Regions from separate parts of the Homo sapiens genome. Here region 1 is linked to region 2. Evidence: fine-mapped expression QTL. A gene starts in region 2. The other region holds a variant in brackets. All regions are shown on one strand. Distances are between the middles of the regions. Region 1 overlaps ATP6V0A2 (ATPase H+ transporting V0 subunit a2). Region 2 holds the start of DDX55 (DEAD-box helicase 55).

Evidence for each region. PIP is the estimated chance that this variant, and not a neighbour inherited with it, causes the effect.
Region 1: its variant is fine-mapped to the expression of DDX55 in spinal cord (GTEx, PIP 0.90).

What each region holds. Positions count from the first base shown.
Region 1 is chr12:123,713,386-123,721,385 of GRCh38, reverse strand. It overlaps ATP6V0A2 (ATPase H+ transporting V0 subunit a2), which reads right to left. Exons shown (of 20, transcript NM_012463.4): 2 at 2,685-2,763. It overlaps LOC105370042 (a long non-coding RNA gene), which reads left to right. Exons shown (of 3, transcript XR_945477.4): 2 at 5,823-5,886; 3 at 6,652-8,000. It also overlaps the pseudogene RPL27P12. Among named protein-coding and RNA genes, the nearest start is that of ATP6V0A2, 5.0 kb to the right of the region's middle. The variant C/T (reference allele first, on the strand shown) is at 4,409.
Region 2 is chr12:123,597,127-123,605,852 of GRCh38, reverse strand. It overlaps DDX55 (DEAD-box helicase 55), which reads right to left and starts at 3,754. Exons shown (of 14, transcript NM_020936.3): 1 at 3,597-3,754. The coding sequence starts at 3,704. TMED2 (transmembrane p24 trafficking protein 2) reads right to left here. Exons shown (of 4, transcript NM_006815.4): 4 at 7,271-8,726. RefSeq lists an enhancer at 2,993-3,042 and a silencer at 3,283-3,392.

The DNA of each region.
Region 1 (8,000 bases), 120 kb before region 2:
GTGACCATCCCCTTAGACAAAACCACCAGGTTTTCAGAGACCCTGCTCTTAAATGCAAGGCCCAGTGGGAGGCCAAGATCAAGTTCAAAGAGTGGAACAAGACTGGCAAGAACAAGTGGTTCTTCCAGAAGCTGTGGTTTTAGATGTTTTTTGTTTCAGTCATTAAAACAAAACAAAACAAAACAAAACAAAACACCTAGATTCATGAAACTAATAGTACACCAGCCAAAACTAACTACTTTATTTGGTTTATGTTTTCGATTCCATGAAGCATCCCTTTCCTTAGGCTAAAAGTCACAATATCTGTTAGTCATTATCAGGCCTAATATTTAGAAGTGTTACTAACTGGTTTACAGAGGGAGAGAGGCAGGTAAAGAAGTAAGGAGGAAAAACAAAAAGAAAAAGAAAAGAAACTGTCTTACCAAGATAGCAAAGGAAGCACTGGGTCTAAGAGGTTTCTAGAAATGAACGCAAATTGTTTTAACCAATTTATACTTCAATTTATTCTTTTTTTTTTTAAGAGACAGGGGTCTCACTATGTTGCCCACGCTAGCCTTGAACTCCTGGGCTCAAGAAAGCCTCCTGCCTCTACCTTCAGAGTAACTGAGACTATAGGTATGTGCACCACCATGCCTGGCGTACACCTAAATTTCCTTGAGAGGTCCTTTTTCACTGTTTTAAGTCTGCATTCTTATGGGGTCATACCCTGCTGCCCAGGCTGGAGTACAGTGGTGTGTCATCCTGGCCCACAATAACCTCAAACTCCTGGGCTCAAGCAATTCTCCCACCTCAGCCTCCTGAGTAGCTAAGACTACAGGCACATGTCACCATGCCTGGCTAATTTTATTTTTTGTGGAGACAGGGTCTCAGTATGTTGCCCAGACTGCTCTCAAACTCCTGGACTCAAGTGATCCTCCCACCTTGGCCTCCCAAAGTGCTGGAATTATAGGCGTGAGCCATCGTGCCCAGCCCTGCATTCTTTTGAAACAGTTTAAGCTACAGGAAGTCCTGGATATACCTAATGTGTTATCACATTTGCCCTGCCTTTAAAAACCTTATTCTGAATACACCATCTATCCAATGACTCACCCAGGTTGCAAAGACAGGAATATGGTGCCACTAACGTACATGAACCACACAAATAACTAGGACCTCAAGCAATATGAATAGGACTAGATTTCAAATGACTAAAATTTCCTGTTACACTTAAAAATCCCCAATTTAAAAAAAATAGGCCGGGTGTGGTGGCTCACATCTGTAATCCCAGACCTTTGGGAGGCCGAAGCCAGTGGATCACCTGAGGTCAGGAGTGTAAGGTCAGCCGAGAGAAAGGAAGAATAGACCCAAAGTCAGGTGAGTAAGTTTATTGAACCTGCCGGCTGCTCCACGACAGAGGAGGCAGCCCTGAACTTACAAAATGAGGGGTTTATACGGGGGAGAGAGACCCTGGGGTCGTTTGTTGGTTAACTTTGCCATGTATCACCTTGTGACCTTTACAGTAGCAGCTAAATGAAGGAACTTACAGGAGGCCGTAGGCAAAGTTTGTTTAGGCTTCCCACAACCTCCCCCTGTGTGGTCCGGATGGTTTATAATTGTGTTTTGCTTATCGCAGGAAGGCCTGATAAGTGAAGTTTGCTGGCTTCACTGGGGCACCTAGATAAGGGCTTAGAAATGTTAAAGGGGCTCAGGGGGAGGGGTAGGCAGCACGGAGAGCTTTGGGGGAAGTGTTGGCAGTACCAAGAAGCTTTTTTGGGGCGGTTTGTCCCTAACAAGGAGTTCAAGACCAGCCTGGCCAACATGGTAAAACCCCATCTCTACTAAAAGTACAAAAATTAGCCAGGTGTGGTGGCACGCACCTATAGTCCCAGCTACTAGGGCGGCTGAAGCAGGAGAATCGCTGGAACCCAGGAGGCGGAGTCTGCAGTGAGCCAAGATCATGCCACTGCACTCCAGCCTAGGTGACAAAGCAAGACTCCATCTCAAAAAAAAAAAAAAACAAGCTTTGTCCTTCAGTTGACTGTCTGTCATTTTCCCTCCACTTCAGTGAGAATGTCAAGGCTTGATTTGATAATGACTAGTACCAGACTAAGATGGTAAAGACTTTAGAGATAAAAGAAGTGGCCCTGGGCTGCTTAGTTGAAATGGTTAACAATCAGCACTGATCTAACACACTGGCAAAGGAAGCCCTGAGAAAAAGGAAATTATTGTCAATCACTCTATCTTCCATTTCCCGCCTCCCTTGTTCCTTGAAAAAATTTTAAATTAAGTAACTTATTAACAAGTACAATGTTTTTAAGTTATAATAAACTACAAGGGATCGGTTAAATAAGCCACAGCACATTAATATTAATACAATCAAATAGTATGCTGCCATCAAAAACGATGATGGGTAAATATCTATGTCTACTGACACGAAAAGATGTTATAGTAAGCACTGTTAAGTAAAAAACAAGGGTAACAACAAAATAACCAGGCCATTATGTTTGTAAATTTTTACTTTTATAGATGAATAAAAAAATACAGAAAAATAATACATGCCTACATAACTGTGATTACTTCTGAATGAGAATACAATTTCTTTTTTTCCTTTCTGCTTGTCTATATTTTCCAATATTTTTAAACCGAACAAGGTTTGCCTATATAAAGGTAATTATTTAAGTTGTTAAATCAGAAAATAAACTTACCCAATATTCGCTCTAGCTCTTCACACCTCTTCACCTCACCAACAAATTTTCTTTGGAAAGAACTTACGTTCTGGTTGAGCTGAGAAAAGGATGAAAAATATGGTTTAAATTTCTAAAATTTAAAAATACTTTTATGTAAAAAATAAAACATCACCAAAGTTTGGGGGATGTACACTCTTGTATACTATTGAATGAAACTATAAACTGACACAACTTTTCTTGAGAGCAATTTGTCAACTGTTACCAAAAAAGCCTGAAAATCCAGCCGGGCCAACACGGTGAAACCCCAACCCTGCTAAAAATACAAAAATTAGGCCGGGGCGGTAGCTCACGCCTGTAATCCCAGCACTTTGGGAGGATGAGGCGGGCAGATCACTTGAGGTCGGGAGTTCAAGACCAGCCTGGCCAACATGGTGAAATCCCACCTCTACGAAAACACAAAAATTAGCCAAGCATGATGGCAAGTACCTGTAATCCCAGCTACTCGGGAGGCTGAGGTGGAAAAATTGCTTGAACCCAGGAGGCGGAGGTTGCAGTGAGCCAAGATCGTGCCATTTGCACTCCAACCTGGGCAACAGGGCAAGACACTATCTCAAAAAAAAAAAAAAAATTAGCCAGGCATGGTGGCGCACCTAAGTAATTCCAGCTACTTGGAAGGCTGAGGCACGAGAATTGCTTGAGCCCGAGAGGCAGAGGTTGGATGGAGCTGAGATCACACCACTGCAATCCAGCCCAGGTGACACAGTGAGACCCTGGGTCAAAAAAAGAAAAAATCCTGAAAATGATTATTTGCCCAGCAATACCCCATGAAGAAAATTTAACCTAAGGAAAAAGCTATGGAAACAGATGAAAATCTATGACAACATCAATCTCAGGGAAAAAGAAAAAATGATAACCCAAAAATCCAACAATAGAAAACTAGTTCAAGAAATTACAGTAGCGTAGTTAAAGAAATTATAGCCAGGCACAGCAGCTCGTGTTGATAATCCCAGCAATTTGGGAGGCTGAGGTGGGAGGACTACCTGAGGCCAGTAGTTTGAGGCCAGCCTGGGCAACATGGTAAGACACCATCTCTCCAAAAAATAAAAAATTAGCCAGGCCTGGTGGTGCACGCCTGTGGTCCCAGTTGCTCAGAAGGCTGTGGCAGGAGGATTGCTTGAGCCCAGGAGATCGAGATTGCAGTGAGCAGTGATCACACCACTGCACTCTAGCCTGGGTGACAAAGCAAGAGCCTGTCTCAAAAAAAAAAAAAAAAGAAAGAAAGAAAAGAAAAGAAATTACAGTCTATATCCACACAATGGAATGCTACTTAGCAATAAAAAGGAATGAACTACTGACCCATGCAACAACAGGGATGACTTTCTCTTTTTTTTTTTTTTTTTTTTTTGAGACAGAGTTTCGCTCTGTTGCCCAGGCTGGAACGTACTGGCAGTATCTTGGCTCACTGCAACCTTCGCCTTCCAGGTTCAAGCGATTCTCCTGCCTCAGCCTCCCGAGTAGCTGGGATTACAGCCAAGTGCCACCACCCCCGGCTAATTTTTGTATTTTTAGTAGAGATGGGGTTTCACCATGTTGGCCAGGCTGGTCTCAAACTCCTGACCTCAGATGATTCGCCCACCTCGGCCTCCCAAAATGCTAGGATTACAGGCGTGAGCCACCACGCCCACCCTGGATGACTTTCATACTAAGTGAAAGCAGCCAGACACAAGAAGCCACATACTGTG[C/T]GATTCCACTTACATGGAATGTCCAGACAACCCTAGAGGCAGCAAGCAGATTAGTGGGTGCTGGGGGGGTGGGGGTAGGAATAAGGATTAACTGTAAATGAGCATTAAGAATCTTCTGGGGTGATGGAATGTTCTAAAACAATTGTGGCAATGGATGCATGACTCTATAAACTCTTTTTTTTTTTTTTTGAGACAGGATCTCACTGTCGCCTAGGCTGAAGTCCAGTGGCGCAATCTCAGCTCACTGCAACCTCTGCCTCCCAGGTTCAAGCGATCCTCCTGCCTCAGCCTCCTGAGTAGCTGGGATTAAAGGCACGTGCCACCACACCCGGCTAATTTTTGTATTTTGGGTAGAGATGGGGTTTCGCCATGTTGTTCAGGCTGGTCTCAAACTGGTGGGCTCAAGTGATGTGGCTGCCTCAGCCTCCCAAAGTGCCGGGATTACAGGTGTGAGCCACTGCACCCGGCCTCCATAAACTTTCTAAAAATCATGGGTAAACTCTACCATACACCTCAATAAAGTTGTGTAAAAATGACCAGGTATTTGATTATATTAAGAAATGTTATTTAAATTTTCAGGTACAATGTTGGTAATAATTTTTTATCTTCTAGGCCAGGCCTGGTGGCTCATGCTTGTAATCCCAGCACTCTGGGGGGCCAAGGTGGGGGGATGACTTGAGGTCAGGAGTTGGAGACCAGCCTGGCCAACATGGTGAAACCCCGTCTCTACTAAAAATACAAAAATTAGCCAGGCGTGGTGGCGCGCGCCTGTGATCTCAGCTGCTCAGGAGGCTGAGGCATGAGAATCACTTGAACCTGGGAGGCAGAGGTTGCAATGAGCTGAGATCGCGCCACTGCACTCCATCCTGGGCGACAGAATTGAGACTCCATCTCAAAAAAAAAAAAGAAAAAAAATTCATCTTTTAGAGGTACTTGTTGAAAAGTTAAATTATATATCTTGGATTTGCTTCAAAATGATCTAGTCTGGGAAGTGAGAAAAAACTAAGTTTACATTTATGGGTACATGGGGGTACACTGTACTCTTCCCTCTACTTATAATATAAAGTTTAAAACAATTTTAAAAAGTTGTAAAAGAATATTTAATAAAATTAGGAAGTTAGTCATGATTTCTGTGTAAAGCAGATTAGGATGTTTTCAGTGTGGTTCAAATTATATAAAAATACATATATATGGACATTTTTAAACATTATTAGAGAAATGCTGATTGTCCAGTATTAGCCAAAAAGTTAAAGTTAATTTCTAGGCGTTGGGATCATGCAAGGTATGTTACTATTCTTATGTTTTCCACATTTCTCACAATGGTCATCTATCACTTTCATACTTCAACAATTTACAGTATATCATTCATGTTGAAAGCCATTTAAGACACGAAATTTATCTTTATTCCATCCAGGATTTGTACTGGGCACTCTCAAGAAACAGTTAAGATACAACTTGACATGAAACTGCTCAACCTGGTAAGTGTCTACTCAGTGTCTGACTCAGTTCTTGTTCATTTTTTGGGGACTTTTTTTTTAAAAGAACCAGAAAAAAGGTAAAAATTCTCATTTCACTTCTGTTTGTCACCTTCTCATTCATTTCTGGAGGTCGAACTAAAAGTAACCACTTCCAAGTTACTAATGATTCAGACACAATCTAGTTCTATGGAACTTGTTGGAAAGGAAGTTCTGTGTCTAAAGCTGTCACAGGATACTACTTCTCAGCTTTCATTTTCTTCCTTCAATATCAAATAGTACTTAACTCTAAATGGGCATGATGTTTCTACAAATAGTAGAATCTTTATTTATAAAGAGGTAAATTTCTGTGGCAATAATACAAACATGGATTTCACATACATACACCACCATCACCAGCTTACATATATTAACTTTTTTTTGAGACGGAGTCTCGCTCTGTTGCCAGGCTGGAGTGCAGTGGCGCGATCTCAGCTCACTGCAACCTCTGCCTCCTGGGTTCAAGTGATTCTCCTGCCTCAGCCTTCTGAGAGTAGCTAGGACTACAGGCACACCCCGCCATGCCCAGCTAATTTTTGTATTTTTAGTAGAGACAGGGTTTCACCATGTTGGCCAGGATGGTCTCGAACTCTTGGCCTTGTGATCTGCCCGCCTTGGCCTCCGAAAGTGCTGGGATTACAGACGTGAACCACCGTGCCCAGACATATTAACTTTTTTTTTCTATTGTGTGGTTTCTTTTATAAATTTTGGGTTTTTTTTCCCTTTTAGGGCAGCACCCTAATTCAAGGCTAATGGAATAAGGTACATTTTAATGTAGATTCAATTCAAGGCACATTTAACCTAGTAAAACCGGCAGAGGAGATCTGGTGCTGTTTGTTTTGATATTCACAGCCATTGATACTCCCACTTCAGCTGAAGGACTAAAGAGGAAACCTGTTCTTAGACTGAGAACTGTAACAAAAGTGCGAACTTTCCCTTCAGGGAGTCCTCCCCATCAGCTGAATGACCTTTCTTTTCCAGGTACTTCCCACTAGCTGTCACCACGGAAGTCACCACCTGCCCCCCTTTCCCTTGCAAGGGTTACTAACAGTGATCCCATCTGGTCACCACAAAGTCAGTAGGAAACTCAGGCTGAAGACACACTGAAAACCTAGCACCACACAAGAGCTCATCGCAGCAACCTTAGTTTTACTTCCTTCTGGAAAAAGATGAACAGCACTTTCTTCTCCTTTCACTGACATTCAGTTGAAAAGGATCCCAGGTACACTCTATGACTGGAGGTAGTGGCGCTTATTGAAACTGGAACCTTCATAGTGATTAGTACGTTTGCTCAAACCTGTAAGACTGAAGTGTGATAAGTGTCTTGGCTTGAGTACTAACCGGAAGGAAAACATCTACCTGTTACAAATGTAGGAGCCTGCTGCACCTGCAGCTGTTGCCTGAATGTTTTGGGTGCTATTCACAGCTCAGCGCAGCATCCATCAGGTGAATGGGTACAACTGCAGAAGTGGCTCCAGGAACCAGGAACCGCCCTGCATCTTACCTGCACCCTCGCCTGTCACTCAGGAGTCTCTCCATGACTTTGCAACTGCCTTATGGGGCTGATCTGGTATTAGATATCTGATATCAATGGATATCAGATCTCGGGTAGGGCTGATCCCTTTTGAAATTAAGGACACCTTAGGAAGATTAAGGGAAACAGTCAGGAGATGAAAGTGGTGGCCAGGAAATAAAATGTTCGCCTGAGTGGATTTCAATTCAGTCAGTAAGTACTTGCTTCACGGTCTCCCTTCCACACCCTGTTCTTTGCCTTCTTAGCACTTATCACAGCTCATAATCAGAGTGTGTTTAATCTGTCTCCTCCCACACTGGAAGCTCCAGGAACACAGGGACTGTGTCTGCCTTGCTCACCACCGAGTCTCCAGCACCAAAAACAGTGCCTGAACATAGCGGGCAGTCAAGAAAAGCTTGTCTGTTCATTCAACAAATGCCTATCGATGCCAATGACTGCCAAGGACTGCGTTAAGGTACTTACTCTCAGAGGTTGACAGTCCTTGGTGGAGACAAACAATAAACAAGTAAATGGACAAACAAATGTTTATTATTACTTGTTGGGG
Region 2 (8,726 bases):
TGGGCAGCTAAGGTCACAGTGGGTCCCACCACAAAAGGGGCTCTGAGTAACCAAGTCACCATAGAGAAGTTGAATCAAACGTGGCAACTGTGTCTATGTGGACGGCGTGTGGGGACAGTGAGCTGAGCTGGGAGGTGGGAGTCCTGAATTCTAGCCCTGTCGCTCCTACTTTCCTCTCTGAACCAGGAAGGCGTTGAAGACATTGGGTTTTAGGGTCCCTTCCAGCTCTAGTATCACAGAATCATGATTCAAATAAACCCTCTCATTTTAAGCACTGTAGAGGTTGCCAGACTTTAAAAGAAACCTGGTTTTAGCAATCAAAAAAAACCTCAATTAGATTCAGGCCTTGGCCTGGAGGCTGCTCCCTCCAGGATTCAGCCCTGGTCCCCAGGGCCTGAGCTCACTTAAATCACAGCAGGTGTAATATTATTCTAACTGCCTCTACACAGTGATTGCTATCCCCCTGCTCAACCCCTGAGGGAACATTTGACAATGTAAGGAGACATTTTTGGTTGTCAAAACCCAGGGTGGGCCAGGCGTGGTGGCTCACATCTATAATCACAGCACTTTGGGAGGCCCAGGTGGGTAGATCCCTTAAGGCCAGGAATTCCAGACCAGCCAGGCAACACAGGGAGACTCTGTCTCTACAAAGAAAATTTTTTTAATTATGTGGGTGTGGTGGTGCATGCCTGCAGTCCCAGCTACTCAGGAGGCTAAGGTAAGAGGATCACCTAGGCCCAGGGAGGTCGAGGCTACTGTGAGCTGTGACTGTGCCACTGCACTCCAGCCCGGGTAACAGAGCAAAACCCTGCCTCAATAAATAAATAAATAAATAAAATACAACCAGGGTTGGGAGGTGATGTCCTCTGATGGACAGATTCCAGTGATGTTGTTAAACATCCTACAATGCCCAGGACAGCCCCATAACAAAAAATTTTCCAGCACAAAATGTCAATAGTGCCAACAGTGAGGACCCTGCTTCAGGCCATTGCTGTCCAATAGAAATAAAATGTGAACCACATAAACAATTTTAAATTTTCTAATAGCCATAGTAAGAAAAGTAAAAAGAAATGGGTGAAATAAATTTTAATATTTTATTTAACCCAATATATCAAAAATATTGTCCCTTCACATTTAGTCAATATTTAAAAATCAGCATTTTCCATTCTTTTTTCATACTAGGTCTTCAAAATCTAGTGTGTTATTTGATACTCAGAGTACACTTTGATTTGGACAAAGTGTATTTCAAGCACTTGATAGCCATGTCTGATGACTGTGTAGTGGATGACAGGTCTAGACAATGAGCTCTGAGGCCAGAGATTGGGTCTTGCTCGCACTACATTCCCTAGGCAGGGCACATAGCACTCCCAGTTTTCATCTCCAGCCCTGCCTGCTGGAAATACATTCTCCACATTCCCGGGAATCTTATGGGCATCTCAAACTCAAGACTTCATTTATTTAAAAAAAATTTTTGTGATGACAGGGCCTCCCTATGTTGCCCAGGCTGGTCTTGAACTCCTGATCTCAAGTGATCCTCCCACCTTGGTCTCCAAAAGTGCTAGGATTACAGGCGTGAGCCACCGTGCCCGGCCATTATTTATTTTAATTTCGAAGATGCGGGTCTCACTATGTTGCTCAGGCTGGTCTTGAACTCCTGGGCTCAAGGGATCCTCCCACCTCAGCCTTCCAAACAAATGGTACTACAGGCGGGTGCCACTGTACCCAGCTCAGTGTTTAAAAACAGGACTCTTGTGGTCAGGCGCAGTGGCTCACTCCTGTAATCCCAGCACTTTGGGAGGCCAAGGCGGGCGTACCTGAGGTCAGGAGTTCAAGACCAGTCTGGCCAACATGGCGAAATCCCGTCTCTACTAAAAACACAAAAATTAGCCAGGCGTGGTGGTGTATGCCTGTAACCCCAGCTACTTGGAAGGCTGAGATGGGAGAATAGCTTGAACCCGGGAGGCAGAAGTTGCAGTGAGCCGAGATCGTGTCATTGCACTCCAACCTGGGCAACAGAGAAAGATTCCGTCTCAAAAAAGTTAAAAACAAACAAACAAACAAAAAACAAAAAAAAGAACTCTTGACTTTCCCTCTGAAACCTGATACGCACGCCAGTCATTCTTGGGAAATGGTAACACCATTCACTCAGCTACTAATAAAAATCAGCCGGGTGCGGTAGCTCAGCCTGTAATCCCAGCACTTTGGGAGGCCAAGGCGGGTGGATCAGGAGGTCAGGAGTTCAAGACCAACCTGGCCGAGATGGTGAAACCCCGTATCTACTAAAAATACAAAAAATTAGCCGGGCATGGTGGCAGGCACCTGTGATCTCAGCTACTTGGGAGGTTCAGGCAGAGAATTGCTTGAACCCAGGAGGCGGAGGTTGCAGTGAGCCGAGATCGCGCCACTGCACTCCAGCCTGGGCAACAGAGCGAGACTCCATCTCAAAAAAAAAAAAAAAAAGAATAAAAACCTCAGGTCCTGTAGTCTTTTCTTTCCTAACCTCCACTTCCAGTCCCTTAGCAACCTTAAAGCTATCCCAAATGTGACTTCTCAGTATCCACTGGTTCCACCCTACTCCAAGTCACCATCATCTCTTACCTGACAATGGCCTCCTAAGCGACCTGCCTGCTTCATCTCTTATGCCTGGAAAGGCCACTCTCTACAGAGAAATCACAGCCCTTCCCTTCCTAAACATCCTCCCAGATAAGATGGCTTCCCACTACATTTAGAATGAAATCCAAGCGCCTACAAGACCCTGCACAATCCATCTCTTACACTACTCTTGATGTTCAGCCACAAAGGCCTCCTTTCTGCTGCTCAAACTATTTGCAGCCTGCCGCAGGGCATTTATGTGCACTGGTATTTCTCTCCAGTGGAATAATCTCCCCCTAGTCACCTCAGAGCCAGCTCCTTCTCAATCACTGAGGTCTCAGCTCAATGCACCTCCTCAGAGAGGCCTTCCTTAACACCCTATCTCACCTCCTCTGCAGTCCTCGCGCGACACTATCACAACCGTCTTAGTTCTTTCATAACACTTACCAGCAGCTGAAATTATCCTTTCTCTAGCTCTTGCACTAGAAAGTAAGGCTATGAGCAGATGCCAATACTGCAAACTCCCCAGAGCCTAGAAGAGTTCCTGACACATAGCAGGTCCTCAAGAAATATTCTTGAAGAGATGCATAACAACGGTAACCCTTACTGAGCTCCCATAGTGTGCCGACTGGTTTATTTAGTCCCCACAGCAACCCCATAAGGAGGGTGTTATTTTTTCGTCATTTCACAGAGAAGGAAAATGAAGCACGGAGAGGTTAAGCCATTTGCCCGAGGTCTCACAGCTACAGCGAGCAGGGCCAGGATGAGAACCAGGCTTGAGACCACAGCACCCGAGGGCGGGGTGGGTCGCGGCCCCTCTGCCGGCTCGCTGGCCGGGCAGCTCCGCATTCCGCCAGTCTGGGCAGCTGGAGACAAGGCAAGAGCCCCAGCTGGAGGGATGAGCGCCCCAGGGCTCAGATCTGTCCGATCACCTCCTGTGGGTCCGATGCAGCGGGTGCCTGCCCCTCTCCCAGCCTCACTCCCCCACGCCAGGGAACCGATACCTGCACCGGCGTCATGTACGGGAAGCCCAGCTCCCGCAGCGCGCCCAGCACCTGCGGGTGCAGCGGCACAGGCAGCGACTCCCAGGAGCCCTCTGTCACATGCTCCATGGCGCGCTCCTTCGCCGCGTCGGTCGCCGCTGCTCGAACGCGCCTTGTGCACCCCCAACGAGCACTTCCGCTTCCCGCAGCTCCAGCGGCCGGCCGGGAACTTCGCTGGAGCAGCAGAGTTCCGGAGCGCGGCGAAGGCTCCCACGCCGCGGGAGGGAGGAAAGGCGTCCGCGGGACGGTGGAGGCAGGCGGCGGGGCAGGCCTGGGGAGTTACACCCGCTCCGCACAGCGCCCTGGGCTCCGGGCGCCTCTCCGCACCGGGCAGGAGTTTTGGCGGGAGGGATTCTGGCCCGGCCCTCCCACTTTCTCTGCCCCTCGGAGGCAGGTGGCAGCACAGGACCGCGTCCAGGCCGAAGGACAGCGGGGCTGGCTACCGTGGGCAGAGAAACGTGTCGGGGACCCGGGTTAGCAGCCCTGCAAAACAGGCACCCGCTGATGGCCGGTACGTCCTGAATGTTGCGGTCCGATGGCCGGTACGTCCTGAATGTTGGTTTACTTTCCCGGAAGTTAGGGTCAGAGTCCTAACTAAGAACACTGTCCCATTCCTCTGTTCACTGTTTGCCTGGGCCATTCATGTCCACATACAACTTCACTCAGAAAGCTGTTTTTGTTGTTGTTGTTGTTGTTGTTGTTGTTTGAGACGGAGTCTCGCTCTGTTGCCCAGGCTGGAGGCTGGGCGCTATAACGGTTCACTGCAAGCTCCGCCTCCCGGGTTCACGCCCTTCTCCTGCCTCAGCCTCCCGAGTACCTGGGACTGCAGGCGCCCTCCACCACGCCCGGCTAATTTTTTGTATTTTTAGTAGAGACGGGGTTTCACCGTGTTAGCCAGGATGGTCTCGATTTCCTGACCTCGTGATCCGCCCGCCTCGGCCTCCCAAAGTGCTGGGATTACAGGCGTGAGCCACCGCGCCCGGCCTTCACTCAGCAAACTTTTATTGACCACTCATTATGTGCCCTCTATGAGGGCCTATCTCCTCCACCTATGTGCATGGCTTGCTCCTGTTGAGGCTCTGAAAACGAAACCCCAAAATGAAGGCCCCAGAGGCAGCCTCAGAAGCAAGTTTCTCTCTGACCTTCTGCTCCCTCTCTGATCTCTGATTCTCTGAGGCTAGCCATAGAAACTCAAGAATCCCTCTTGCCCATGACGGAGCATAGAAACAGGAATCCCTTTTCTCCACAGTCAGCCATAAAACCTAAAAATATTACTCTCTCTCCACCTTTCTGTGAAAAAACTGGCCATAAAGAAATTATTGGCCTGGCACGGTGGCTCACGCCTGTAATCTCACCACTTTGGGAGGCCAAAGCGGGCAGATCTCAAGGTCAGGAGTTCGAGACCAGCCTGGCCAATATGGTGAAACCCCGTCTCTACTAAAAATACAGAAATTAGCCAGGCGTGGTGGCGCATGCCTGTAGTCCCAGCTACTCAGGAGCCTGAGGCAGAAGAATCGCTTGAACCAGGGAGGTGGAGGTTGCGCCACTGCACTCCAGCGTGGGTGACAAAGCGAGACTCAGTCTCAAAAAAAAAAAGAAAAAGAAATTATCTGGGCTAGGTGCGGTGGCTCATGCCTGTAATCCCAGCACTTTGGGAGGCTGAGGCAGGCGGATCACCTAAGGTAAGGAGTTTGAGACCAGCCTGGCCAACGTAGTGAAACCCTGTCTACTAAAAATACAAAAAATTAGCCAGGTGTGGTGGCAGGTGCCTGCAGCTACTCCGGAGGCTGAGCTACAAGCATCGCTTGAACCTGAGAAGTGGAGGCTGCAGTAATCCTAGATCGCACCATTGCATTCCAGCCTGGGCGACAGAGTGAGACTCAGTCTCAAAAAACAAACAAACAAACAAACAAACAAACAAAAAAAGGCCAGACGTGGTGGCTCACACCTGTAATCCTAGCACTTTTGGAGGCCAAGGCGGGCAGATTGCCTGAGCTCAGGAGTTCGAGACCAGACGGTGAAATCCCGTCTCTACTAAAAATACAAAAAAAAATTAGCCAGATGTGGCAGCGTGCGCCTGTATTCCCAGCTACTTGGGAGGCTGAGGCAGGAGAATTGCTTGAACCCGGGAGGCGGAGGCTGCAGTGAGCCAAGATCGCGCCACCGCACTCCACCCTGGGTGACAGAGAGAGACTGTCTCCAAAAAAAAAAAAAATGTATCTGACCTCCTTTGTTTTGCTGGTAGGTTGTAAGACCCCATTCCAGGAAGGGTTCTTTCCCCTATCCAGAAGGAAAGAATCCAGACAGGCCTCGCTGGGCTTCCCCACTCAGTCTATGAGCATTAGATCATGCCCTTCTTGTCCAGTCCTATTTCTACTCAGCTGTGCATATTTTGTTGAGCCTAAGCATAAAAATAGTTTTCCCTGTAACTTTGGGTCTTAATTCTGAAGGTTCCTTTGTCATGTAAAAGCATGACCGAATAAATTTGTATCACTTTCCTCCTATTAATCTGCCTATTTTCAGTTGAATTTTTAGAGAAACCTGAGAGCAAAGGGGAAGTTTTCCCTTACACTCCCTTACATTCCACTTGGACTTTTGAAATCAACTTCTGTTACCTTCCTTTCTGTATCACTGAAACTCCTACCTTGATTTATGTTCCCTTCTTAGCATTTACCATTATCTCTTTCTCGCCACACACACACAAACACACACACACACACACAAAACTTATTAGGTTCATCTCTGCCACCAAAATGTAAAACCCACACTAATAGGGTCTTTTCTCTATCTTCTTTATCCCAAGGACTATCACTGTAGCACACAGCAATCACTCAAATATTTGTGGGATTGATAAATGGGAATACAACTCATGCAGACTGCAGTCATCTCAAATTAAGTAAAAGACAACAGCCTGAAGCCACATTTTCAGTGAAATGATCATCACATTCTCAAAACACCTTTGACAACTTTTATAAAATGGGACTTCGGCTAGGCACGGTGGCTCATGTCTGCAATCCCAACACTTTGGGAGGCTGAGGCAGGAGGATCACTTGAGCCCAGGAGAATGAGGCCAGCCTGGGCAACATACAGGAGACTCTGCCTCTACAAAAATAATTTTTTAATTAGCTAGGCGTGGTGGTGCATGCCTGTGGTCCCAGCTACTCGGGAGGCTGAGATGAGAGGATCACTTGAGAGGTTAAGGCTCCAGTGAGCCATGTTTGTGCCACTGCACTCCAGTCCAGGTAACAAAGCAAGACCCTGTCTTTAAAAAACAAAAAATGTAGTCCCAGCTACTTGGAGAGCTGAGGTGGTAGGATCACTTGAGCCCGGGAGGTTGAGGCTTCAGTGAGCAGAGATCAAGCCAACCTGGGAACAGAGTGAGATCCTGTCTCCAAAAAAAGAAAAGGTGGGAGACTTCACAGACAGTTCTGAAAGCAAAGGCACAGGGAAATTACATATCTGTGTGTGTCTTCTGGGCTCTACTACCTACTAGTTTTCTGACCTTAAGACCCTTTCCAAGCCTGTTTTCCTCCTCACTTCCAAAATGGTTTTACCCAAGGTAATGGCAGTTTTGAAGCATGAATAAGACAGACCAAGTAAAGTGCTTAGTACTAGATCGAGACATTACACAGTACTCAAGAAATGGTAGCTACTTTTATTACCAGCAGGCCGTTAGTTTCACAGAGGAAGAACAGTTTCTACAGGTGGTGATCTAGTCTCCGGTTCCACCTTTCACTCTTTTCTGTGGCCTTGGGCAAATCATTTAATCTGTCTTTGAAGCTATTTCCCACATTCATAAACTACGTGGGCAAGTGAAAATAATTCAACCCTTTTTTCCCAAATAGAAAAATACTTAAGATTTTAGCACTGATCCATCAGAGAAGCCACACTGGAAAACCTACGCAGAAACTAAAACTTGGTACCATTCACTATCCTCAAGTTTATAGAATTAAAAAGTAACAGACGTAATAGGTATAAATACTCAGAAAACATGAACATGTCTCATGTCAAATAAGAACAGAAAGTTGGTGTGTAAAAAATGTGGATTAGCTGTCAATATATAAAACACAGAATACTGTTTTTAAAAAGAATTGTTTATTTACCGAACCTGGGGCATATTAGATACAACCAATTTTAAATTTACATCTTTTAAATCAGTTTTGAAGTGTTTCACACACACAAAAAACTTGGCATGCAACAGTTGTCCTAAGGTGAAAGTCACCTCATTAATAAACTGTTGCAAGTGTTCTCACCCAAGGTGGAAGTATGGTTTATCCTGAACATGAAAACCTGTAACAAATTTAAATTAATTATATAAAACTCGTTACTTGTAGTTTTGCCCTTGCAAAGATCCAAAAAAAAAAAAAAAAGCACAAGTAACTAATATGTATCAGTCACAACATAATCCTGGATCATCCCCATACCAAAACCGGATGCTCTTTTAATTTTAAACCCATCATCAGAGAACAAGAGAAAGTAATTTCATTTTACACAAAACAAGATTCACATGTGCCAAAAAAGAAAGACCCAAAAGAAACAAAAACCAAAACCCTAATGCTGACACTGATGGTCAGTACCCTGAACAGTGGCCCAAAGGCCACTGATCAAAAATAAAATAGTGGCTGTATATCAATGAAATGAAATCCAAGAAGCTTTAACCCTTTGGCATCAGAAATCCAGATTTTTCCAATTATGTAAATGCTTATTTCTTACATGCCAAGAGTGGGAGAAGTGAATGTGCCAATGTGGAAAGAAAAAAAGCCACCACTCACTGGGACACCCAGAGAATTGGCTTTAACAGACAATTAGGGGGTTAGGCAGAAACCCAGAAATGGTTATTAGCTGCTTGTGTCATCAATTTAAGTGGAGATGACTGAGTCCTAAGGTACAATGTAAAAATGTATGTGGGAAAATGTATGCTGAGTCGTAGTTTTAAAGCAAAACAAGAAAACAAAGTATGAAAGTACCCAGCCTGGCAGCATACACCCAAGTCAGAGAGCTCTGCCATTAGGACGGGCAGAAACCGTCAAGATTCATACTGCTGTTTCTCATAAGGACTCAACAAAAATGAATCTTTAGTGACTTGAACCA